Linked DNA regions of Homo sapiens. The protein of the gene in region 1 purifies or fractionates together with the protein of each later gene. This does not show direct contact. Each region holds a gene or a part of one and is shown in the gene's direction. Other genes may lie near its edges.

Region 1 (5,396 bases):
GCCATTTGGGATGGAGGGACTCTCCCACTGCATTCTGGAGTGCCGCTCTTCTTCCCTGCCTCCTGAAAAGCTCCAGGCTCTCTTCCCAGTCCCCCGACTCCCATGTTACCAGATTTCTTCCCCTCTGAATTCTTCCCACTCTCTCTCAGCGCCCCAGGCTGAGCTCGGCACCAACACCGCCCTCCATCCTGTGTCCTCAGTGCCCTCCCTAACTCACAGCGCTTCACACCAACAGGTCAGGCCGGCTCCGGCGTCAAACCCAAGCCACAAGTCTACTCTACCCTCCTCAACAGTGGCTGCCAAGGGGGCGAGCATGCGGCCTGCTTCACAGAGCTGCGGAGGAACTTTGTGAACATTCGCCCAGCCAAGTTGAAGAACCTAATCTTGCTGGTGAAGCACTGGTACCACCAGGTGAAGCCACTTGGAAGGGTTTCTCCAGACATGTGACTGTTTGCTTTGTGCTTTCATAGTCGTGAAACTGTTGTCTTACATTTAGTGGCCATTCATGTTCTCTCTCTGGGAATTGTCTGTTTATGTCCCTTGTGCATTATTTTCTCTTGGGTTAGCTGTCTTGTTACTGATTTGTTGAAGCTCTTTATATATTGTGGATACTGATCCTTATTTAGTTAATATAATGCATTCTTCCAATAGTCTTCCAGTCTGTGTCTTGGGCTTTTGCTTTGTTTAAAGGTTATTTGTAGGACAAAATATCTACAGTTTAATGTACTCAGATATATCCTTTGAAAAATGAGTTATTCTTTGTGTGTCTTAAGAAGTCTTTCCCTATCCTGCCAGGTGCAGTGGCTCATGGCTGGAATCCCAGCACTTTGAGTGGCCGAGGCAGGTGGATCACTTGAGGTCAGGAGTTCAAGACCAGCCTGGCCAACATGGTGAAACCCTGTCTCTACTAAAAATACAAAATGTAGCCGGGCGTGGTGGTACACACCTGTAATTCCAGTTACTCGGGAGGCTGAGGCAGGAGAATCTCTTGAACCCAGGAGGCAGAGGTTGCAGTAAGCCAAGATTGCACCACTGCACTCCAGCCTGGGTGACAGAGCCAGACTCCATCTCAAGGAAAAAAAAAAAAAAAAAAAAAAGAGGTCTTTCCCTGTCCTGACTTTGTAAAATGACTCTTTCATATTTCCTGCCATCATATTGTTTCCTATTGTATTTCTGTTCATATTCAGGGCTTTGGCCTGTCTGGTATGGTATGAGGTATATGCGGAGTTGGTACACTTCCCTCCCTAGCCTCAGGGATGCTCCCTTGCTCTGTTCATGTTTGTTGCCAGACTCTTATGCACTGGGGAAAGTGTGCCCAGCCTATGCCTGGAGATGGGGGAACAGGCTCCCCCAAAATCTTGCAGCACATGGACCAGTCATCATAAGCAGGTCTCTCAAGGAAGAGATTCTGGATTCCAGTTCTGGCTCAGCCATCTTCTTGCTGTGTGACCCTGGACAAGTTCCTAGCCTTCTCTGGGCCTCTGTTTCCTCCACTTGCACATAAAGAAATATATGCATCGGCAAATCTTACTCAGGTTCTTTCCATGTAAGATTCTCCAGGGGCAGAAAATGCTAATAGCCTGGTACTTCCTAAAAGGGCAAACTGCTGGGTATGGTGGCTCACGCCTGTGGTCCTCTCCACGCAGGAGGCTGAGGCGTGAAGATCACTTGAGCCCAGGAGTTCAAGGCTGCAGTGACCTAAGATTGAGCCACTGCACTTCAGCCTGGGCAACAGAGTAAGACTCTGTCTATAAATTAATTAATTAATTAATACAACTATGGAGCCAGCCTGGTTGGGCGTTAGAAATTCTATCTTGATCTGGGTGGTGGGTACACATGTGCACCCACGCATGTTTGTCACCCCAGAGAGAGGGGGTGAGCGGAGGGAGTGTGGAGATGCTGGGTGCTTCTAGCCAGGGGGGTCACTTTCTGGCATGCTGAAGCATCCCCTCTGGAGTTACCCAGAGGCCTGGGATTCTTGCCTTGGCATGGAGTAATCCCTCCCTGGTACGTGGAGATCCCAAGTATATGGTGCACAAATAGAAATCATGCATTTTGGGATGGGGGATAGACGGCTGGAGTGAGGAGGGAAGGACAGAGTTCTGGCCCGCTGCCCCACCCCACTCCAGGGGTGAAAGGGCGACAACTTGGTGTCCTTCTCCAATCAGCCACGCAACTGGGACCCCAGATCTGCTTCACCTTTATTTGAGGATAGATAGCAATTTCAGACTACCCTTGGCTTCTCTCTGACTGCTCCCTGCCTCCTTGGGACTTGAAACTTACACCCCTCCCTCCCACCACTCCCCCATCATATGAGCCAACCACTTGGCTGAAGCTACCAGTGAGGGCTGGTGAGAAATGCCACTTGTTCTTGGAACAGGCTTGGAACACAGCATCTTGCCTCAGGCTCGGCCTGGAAGGTCCCCAGTCTGGTTATGCAGAGAGCTGGCTCTCTTTCCTCCCCTTCTTCCTTCTGAGTCCCCTGCCGATGCCCTCTCACAGGTGTGCCTACAGGGGTTGTGGAAGGAGACGCTGCCCCCGGTCTATGCCCTGGAATTGCTGACCATCTTCGCCTGGGAGCAGGGCTGTAAGAAGGATGCTTTCAGCCTAGCCGAAGGCCTCCGAACTGTCCTGGGCCTGATCCAACAGCATCAGCACCTGTGTGTTTTCTGGACTGTCAACTATGGCTTCGAGGACCCTGCAGTTGGGCAGTTCTTGCAGCGGCAGCTTAAGAGACCCAGGTACTTCCTAATAGCCCACCATCTGCTCTCCTGTCCCGGGGCCAGGGGGAGATAATTGACAAGGACAAAACCGGTTACATCTACTGAGTGCTTGGGTATAGAGGCCAAAGCAAAATGCTACATGTACATGTTTTAATTCACTGGACTCAGCCCAGATGCACATTAGAATTACCTGGGGGAGTTTTAAAAAATATACCAGTGCCTGGCCCCACAAGTTTTATGCGTGAATGTTTTGCTGATGTATAGCAGAAAGTGCATGTTCTGATGACTGTGTGAAGACCGCATACTTTGAAACCACCACCCAGATCATGGTAGAATATTTCCAGCACCCCACTGGTCCCCTCTCAGTCAGTAACCTTCCAAAATAACCCCACTTACACTTTTATAATTACAGTTGTGCCTTTTCTTAAATCTTATTTAAATGGAATCATGCCACATGTACTTTTGTGTCTGGCTTCTCGTTCTGTTCTCAAGATTAAGTCTTTGAGATTTAGCTATATAGTTGTGGATCATTCTTTTTTGTTGCTGTATAGTATTCCATTGTGTGAATTTATCAAAATATGTTGTCTATTCTACTGATGATGGACATTTGAGTTCTTTCAACTTGGAACTATTACAAATAGGGCCATCATAAACATTCTTGGACATGTTTTTTTGGTGCATATGCATATCTGTTGGAAATATACCTAGGAATGAAATTGCTGAATTGTAGGGTGTAACTCAAGAGCCCTTGAGAGTGGATCCTGGTATCTTGTGATTCCAACGTGCAGCCAGGGTTGACAATGATAAGCAGGCAATGTTGTTTTCCTCATTTTGCGGATAAGGAAATCGAGGCTCAGAGAGGGTAAATCATTTGCCCCAGGTCACACAGCTGGAAAGTAGCAGAGATGCGATTGGAACCAGGTCCGTTTCACTCCAGAGCCCTCTTGCTAACCAGAACCTTCTTGTCTCTCTGAAATTGCAGGCCTGTGATCCTGGACCCAGCTGACCCCACATGGGACCTGGGGAATGGGGCAGCCTGGCACTGGGATTTGCTAGCCCAGGAGGCAGCATCCTGCTATGACCACCCATGCTTTCTGAGGGGGATGGGGGACCCAGTGCAGTCTTGGAAGGGGCCGGTAAGTGAGGGGGCCCCAGGACCCTTGGGTTTTGCACTTTGTTTATGTGTCCAGTGTTTCCTGAGCATCTACTATGTGCCATATGGTGTGGAACAGGCTTTAAAAAGCAGGGGTGGCCAGGTGTGGTGGCTCACGCCTGTAATCTCAACACATTGGGAGGCCGAGGTGGGCAGATTACCTGAGGTCAGAGGTCAGGAGTTCGAGACCAGTCTGGACAATATGGTGAAACCTTGTCTCTACTAAAAATACGAAAATTAGCCAGGCATGGTGGTGGGTGCGTGTAATCTCAGCTACTCGAGAGGCTGAGGCAGGAGAATTGCTTGAACTAGGGAGGCGGAGGTTGCAATGAGCTGAGATCACTCCATTGCACTCCAGCCTGGGTGACAGAGTAAGACTCCGTCCCAAAAAAAAAAAAAAAAAAAATGCACAGGGCATCAGGCATGTAAAACAGTCTTATCACCAAGCTCAAGCTGAAACTGCCCGGGGGAAGGAGTCCTTTGTTTTTCTGCAGCTATGGTCTGGTTACCAGACCTTTCTGCCCATCACAAGGGCACCCATTTTGCAGTTTATCCCTCCAGAAAGGCACCTTTTTCAACTCTGCCCAAAGATGGCCATGTGCGTTAGCCATGGCCCTCCCACTTCCCCTCTCTGAGCCTCAGTCACCCTGACTGTACAAAGGGCGGGAGCTGGGGAGAGAAGGCATTGGGTTGATGCAGAAACCACTGCGCCTGGCTGAGGCAGCTCCTTCAATGACCTTCCAGGGCCTTCCACGTGCTGGATGCTCAGGTTTGGGCCACCCCATCCAGCTAGACCCTAACCAGAAGACCCCTGAAAACAGCAAGAGCCTCAATGCTGTGTACCCAAGAGCAGGGAGCAAACCTCCCTCATGCCCAGCTCCTGGCCCCACTGGGGCAGCCAGCATCGTCCCCTCTGTGCCGGGAATGGCCTTGGACCTGTCTCAGATCCCCACCAAGGAGCTGGACCGCTTCATCCAGGACCACCTGAAGCCGAGCCCCCAGTTCCAGGAGCAGGTGAAAAAGGCCATTGACATCATCTTGCGCTGCCTCCATGAGAACTGTGTTCACAAGGCCTCAAGAGTCAGTAAAGTGAGTTGGGCCAGTGGAGACACAGGGGGGACCCTATCGAGGGATCAGCGTGGGGAAGGGAAGGAGTTACAGCAATGGAGCTGAGGTTGGGCTGGGGAACTGGACGGCCCAGGAAGGATGATTTGCTGGCTTAAATAAAATATATTTAAGTGCCAGCTTAGATTTTCTTTTTTTTAATGATACAGTTTTTAAAACACTATTACAAGAATCAGATCACTTCCCTCCTCAGCTCAAAATTCTCCATGGTTTCACAGGGCGCAGAGGCCTCAAGTCCTACAGGATGGGCCCTGGTCTCCCTCTGGCCTTGACTTACTCCACACTGGCCTCCTGGCTGCTCTGAGCTTACCAGGTCCACAGAACAATTCAAGGCCTCTGTAGTGGCTGTTTTCTCTTCCTAGAAGAAAATGAGAATTCTCTTCCCCAACCATTTG
Region 2 (4,648 bases), on another chromosome or scaffold:
CCACAGCTCCTCTCCCCACCACTGACTGTTCTTCTTACCACTTAGGCAGCTGGGTCCCAGCTATTGCTGAGGCCGGTGGAGTTCCCTGTTCCCATGTGCCTCCCTGTTCCTCCCCCACATCTGTTCCTGATCTACAGCTAGAAAATGCTGCAAAGAAGAGAGAGCGAGCAACAAGCGACCCAAGGACCACAGAACAGAAACAAGAGAAGAAACGACTCAAAATTTCCAAGAAGCCAAAGGACCCAGAGCCACCAGAAAAAGAGTTTACGCCTTACGACTACAGCCAGTCAGACTTCAAGGCTTTTGCTGGTGAGGAAGTAATGGGGCCCCATACAGGGACATCTGTGCGCGTCAGAGGGGAGGAAGCCATAAAGAGACCACAATATAGGGGCCAAGTGAGTCCTGCACAAGGCATGGTGCTAGCCAGGAATTGTTGGAGTAGTCCAGAGAGGCCGTGGCAATGTGGACAGTCGCCTGCAGCCTCATTACCACCTCCTCCATGGGAGCTCAACTCATGGTGGCCTCCATGGTGGGTTAGCAAGATCACCTGTCACTTCCACTGTGACCAGGGCGCCATCCTTCCTCACTATAACTTGTGCCCATAAACCCTCTCTCTCTCTCTCACACACACACACACACAGAATTTTGTTTGTTGAAAAATCTCAAAGCCTATGACATGAACCCCTATGGCTGCTTGGGCTGTGAGAGTCCGTCTGCTTTGAAGGGGCTACAGATGGCATTCTCGACTCTAGCAGCCTTCGGAGCAACATGCTCCTTTGGAAAAGAGAAAGCAGAGGCCAGTCCACACAATGGCCCTTTATACAGGAGTGTCGCCTCAGAGCCCGAGTTCCTTATGGCATCACCCAGCACAGAGATCAGAATGGATTTCCTTATGTGCGGGGGCCACTGCTGTAGCCACCTGCCCCTAAGGTCCTGGGACTAGAGCTGAGAGAAATGGGCCTGGTTTTCAGACTGCCCACAGGGACCAGGATCGCTATGTATTCATTTATGTGAGCCATGAGCCCTAGCCCCTCATCGTGACAGGGGTGCTCTCACAGCCAAGGCTTCCCTGAGTGTCATGGTCCCGGCCTCGCTGTGAGCCTGTGATGTGTGGTAACTCATTGACCTGACCGCAGGTCTCTCTCATCTCTTACCTTTCAGGAAACAGCAAATCCAAAGTTTCTTCTCAGTTTGATCCAAATAAACAGACCCCGTCTGGCAAGGTAAGAACTGCTCCTGGAGGATTTTAGCACGCTGGTGGCGCCTGTTTCTGACCTCCTCCTCTGCTGAGAAGACAGGCCCATCCAGGAGTCCATTCCTTTGCATATCTTTTTCCTCACCTCATTTCTTCCCAAGGGCAGACAGTACTGATCAGCTACCCCAGCAACTCATAAAACGAGGCTGTAAAAGCTGGCATGTGGCTTTAAAGGGTATTATTCTGTGTTTGCTACCATGGGAACTATAGCTGCAGGCCAAAAGCACCCCCTTTGGGGCCAGCACAAGCCTGCATTCACCCCTCGTGGGTGTTGGTGCTGGTGCCAGGGAAACAGCGTGGCTGTAGCTTCCACAGGCGCGGGGGCAGGGCTGCTTTGGGGTGCTCCTGTTCCTCTTGCAGCGCATCCTGGCGGCCTTGCCTTCAGAGACACAGAAACATCCTCTCTCAGGGGATCTAAAGTCACTCCTGTGCTGCTAGAATCTTTGGCCACCTGAGCTCAGGTGTGTTTTTCTGTGTATCTTGTGGTCAAGGTGCCCACCCAGCTTAAACGGTTTCTTTTCTTTTCAGAAATGCATTGCAGCCAAAAAAATTAAACAGTCGGTGGGAAACAAAAGCATGTCCTTTCCAACTGGAAAGTCAGACAGGTATGTGGTGGACGGCGGTGTGGCCCAGGGAGCCCAGTGAGAAAGCACCTGCCCTGCGTGGTGTGGTCCGTGGGGAGTAGCTGGGGAGCGAGTGTCCAGGGGTCTTCAACCAGGATGACTCAGAGAACCTCCCACAGCCAGGTCCCTCACGCCACTCGGAAAACAAGGGCGGGAGGTGATTTGCTCTGTGCCATACATCACAGAGCCAGGCACTGCACCCCAGGACTCAGATTCCCCTTGTTCCTGGCTCTCTAGTTACCGTGTGTCCTGGGGTCACCTCAGGGAAAATAGGTGTAAATAGTTGTGAAATTTTCCTGGACCAGCCTATTAGGAATGAGGAAAAAGTAAGCACATGTGGGTTATCCTTGTTGTTGAAGAGTGGTTTGGCTTGGTTTGGTTTTGTTTTGTGAGAGTCTCATTCTGTCACCCAGGCTGGAGTGCAGTGGCACAATCTCAGCTCACTGCAACCTCCACCTCCTGGGTTCAAGCAAGTCTCTCACCTCAGCCTCCCGAGTAGCTGGGATTACAGGTGCCTGCCATCATGCCCGGCTAATGTTTTTTTTTTTTTTCTTCTTTGAGATGGAGTCTCGGTCTGTCGCCCAGGCTGGAGTGCAGTGGCACGATCTCTGCTCACTGCAAGCTGCGCCTCCCGGGTTCACGCCATTCTCCTGCCTCAGCCTCTCGAGTAGCTGGGACCACAGGCGCCCGCCATGATGCCCGGCTAATTTTTTGTATTTTTTAGTAGAGACGGGGTTTCACCATGTTAGCCAGGATGGTCTCGATCTCCTGACCTTGTGATCCGCCCGCCTCGGCCTCCCACAGTGCTGGGGTTACAGGCGTGAGCCACCGCGCCCGGCCTGTTTTTGTATTTTTAGTAGAGATGGGGTTTTGCCATGTTGGCCAGGCTGGTCTCAAACTCCTGGCCTCAATTGATCCTCCCGCCTTGGCCTCCCAGAGTACTGGGATTACAGGTGTGAGCCACTGCACCCAGCCAAATGTTTTTGTTAAAAACATAAAATCCTAATAATTAAGCCGACCCTGAGGTCAGGGGACTTGCCCGAGGGCAGGAAAAACAGGTCTGCCTTCTCAAGATGCTGCTCAGCTCAGCCAACTCTGGTGGGCCGCCGAGTTCTCTGGGGCCCCTGAGCAAACCATTCTTCCTCTGTTCTGCATGATTAAGATTTGCACCATTTTGTAAACCATCTGAGAACATCCAACCAGCCCGGAAGAAATAACTGTTGTTTTTGTACTCTCTGCAGAGGCTTCAGGTACAACTGGCCACAGAGATAGTCCTGGAAGACACGTGGCGCCTGTGGACCGGAAGCACCAAATGCTGGTGCTGCTTTTGTACATACATATTTTTAAACCATTAAAATTCTTCCTGAAGAAAGCTGATTCCTGACTTTTATTTTGTTGCCGCCACAGCTCTGGCAGGTTGCCATCCTGTTCAGGCAACCATCTTCAGCTGTCTGTGGGCAGGTGAGTGTGCTCCGGGGGTTATGGTGACTTCTAGAAAAATCCAGAGCCGGCCGGGTGCGGTGGCTCACGCCTGCAATCCCAGCACTTTGGGAGGCTGAGGCAGGCGGATCACGAGGTCAGGAGATCGAGACCATGCTGGCCAACACGGTGAAAGCCTTTCTCTACTAAAAATACAAAAAATTAGCCGGGCATGGTGGTGGACGCCTGTAATCCCAGCTACTCAGGAGGCTGAGGCAGGAGAATCGCTTGAACCTAGGAGGCGGAGGTTGCAGTGAGCCGAGATCACGCCACCTCATTTGAGCCTGGGCAGTAGAGCAAGACTCTGTCTCAAAAAAAAAGGCAAATGCAAAGAGAAAATTTTAATCATTTGTAGTCCTGTCACACAAAGATGCTTTTTTCCTTTTTTTGAGACAGGGTCTCACTCTGTTGCCCATTCTGGAGTGCAGTAGTGTGATCCTAGCTCACTGCAGCCTTGACCTCCCAGGCACATGCCACCACACCTGGGTAATTTTTCTTATGTTTTATAGAGATGGGGTCTTGCTGTGTTGCCCAGGCTGGTCTTGAACTCCTGGCCTCAAGCAATCCTCCTGTCTTGTCCTGCCAGTGTTGGGATTTCAGGCATGAGCCACCACACCCAGCTGAGATTAACATTTTGCTGTATTTCCTTATAAGCTTTCGCTATGTGTATATAGATATATTTTTAAAATATATCTTGGGTTCAGGTTTCTATCATTTGTCACCTTGAAAGTTTGTGTTATGACACTTTTCTCAATCTAAAATTTATTTTCGCCAACCCCCATTGTTAAACGCTTAGGTTTTCATTTTTGGTACTATTCTTAATAATGCAGCACTCACTAAACTTTTATATAAATTTGTGACCCAGTCTCTGATAATTTCTTTAGAACTTCATTTTATTTTAATCCTGAGATGGGCTAATAAATCAGGAAAGCACAAAATGCCATTACTTTGGTTTTTACAAATACTTAACCTAGAAACCTTTTTTCTTTGAAATTCATCCCACAAAGTATTGAGATTGCCAACTGTATATGATAACCTTTGGGGGGTACCAAGCCAAATCACACATCACTGCCGTCAGAGAGCTCCCACTCTTGAACAGCAGAGAACAGCCCTGTCCTAAGATAGGCTGGAGTTTGTTTTAGCTAGGACTAGACTGGTTGAAAATGACAGAAAAGCCAAACTATAGTGACTTTTAACAAGAGAGATGATTTTCCTCCTCTTTTGTAAACATAGTTGGCCCAGAGCTAGTGTGATGCTCATGATCATCAGACACAGGCTCCTATCTTGTTTT

What was found. The genes of interacting proteins can lie anywhere in the genome.
Region 2: the proteins of OAS3 (region 1) and EXOSC10 purify together in Homo sapiens (affinity purification with mass spectrometry; one large-scale study listed by BioGRID and IntAct). This does not show direct contact.

What each region holds. Positions count from the first base shown.
Region 1 is NC_000012.12:112,944,241-112,949,636, forward strand, and holds part of OAS3 (2'-5'-oligoadenylate synthase 3), read left to right. Parts: intron 1-235; coding exon 236-411; intron 412-2,502; coding exon 2,503-2,741; intron 2,742-3,705; coding exon 3,706-3,859; intron 3,860-4,620; coding exon 4,621-4,965; intron 4,966-5,396.
Region 2 is NC_000001.11:11,065,220-11,069,867, reverse strand, and holds the end of EXOSC10 (exosome complex component 10), read left to right. Parts: intron 1-137; coding exon 138-309; intron 310-1,161; coding exon 1,162-1,223; intron 1,224-1,783; coding exon 1,784-1,860; intron 1,861-3,119; coding exon 3,120-3,150; 3' UTR 3,151-3,250; downstream 3,251-4,648. UniProt on the Homo sapiens protein: Catalytic component of the RNA exosome complex which has 3'->5' exoribonuclease activity and participates in a multitude of cellular RNA processing and degradation events.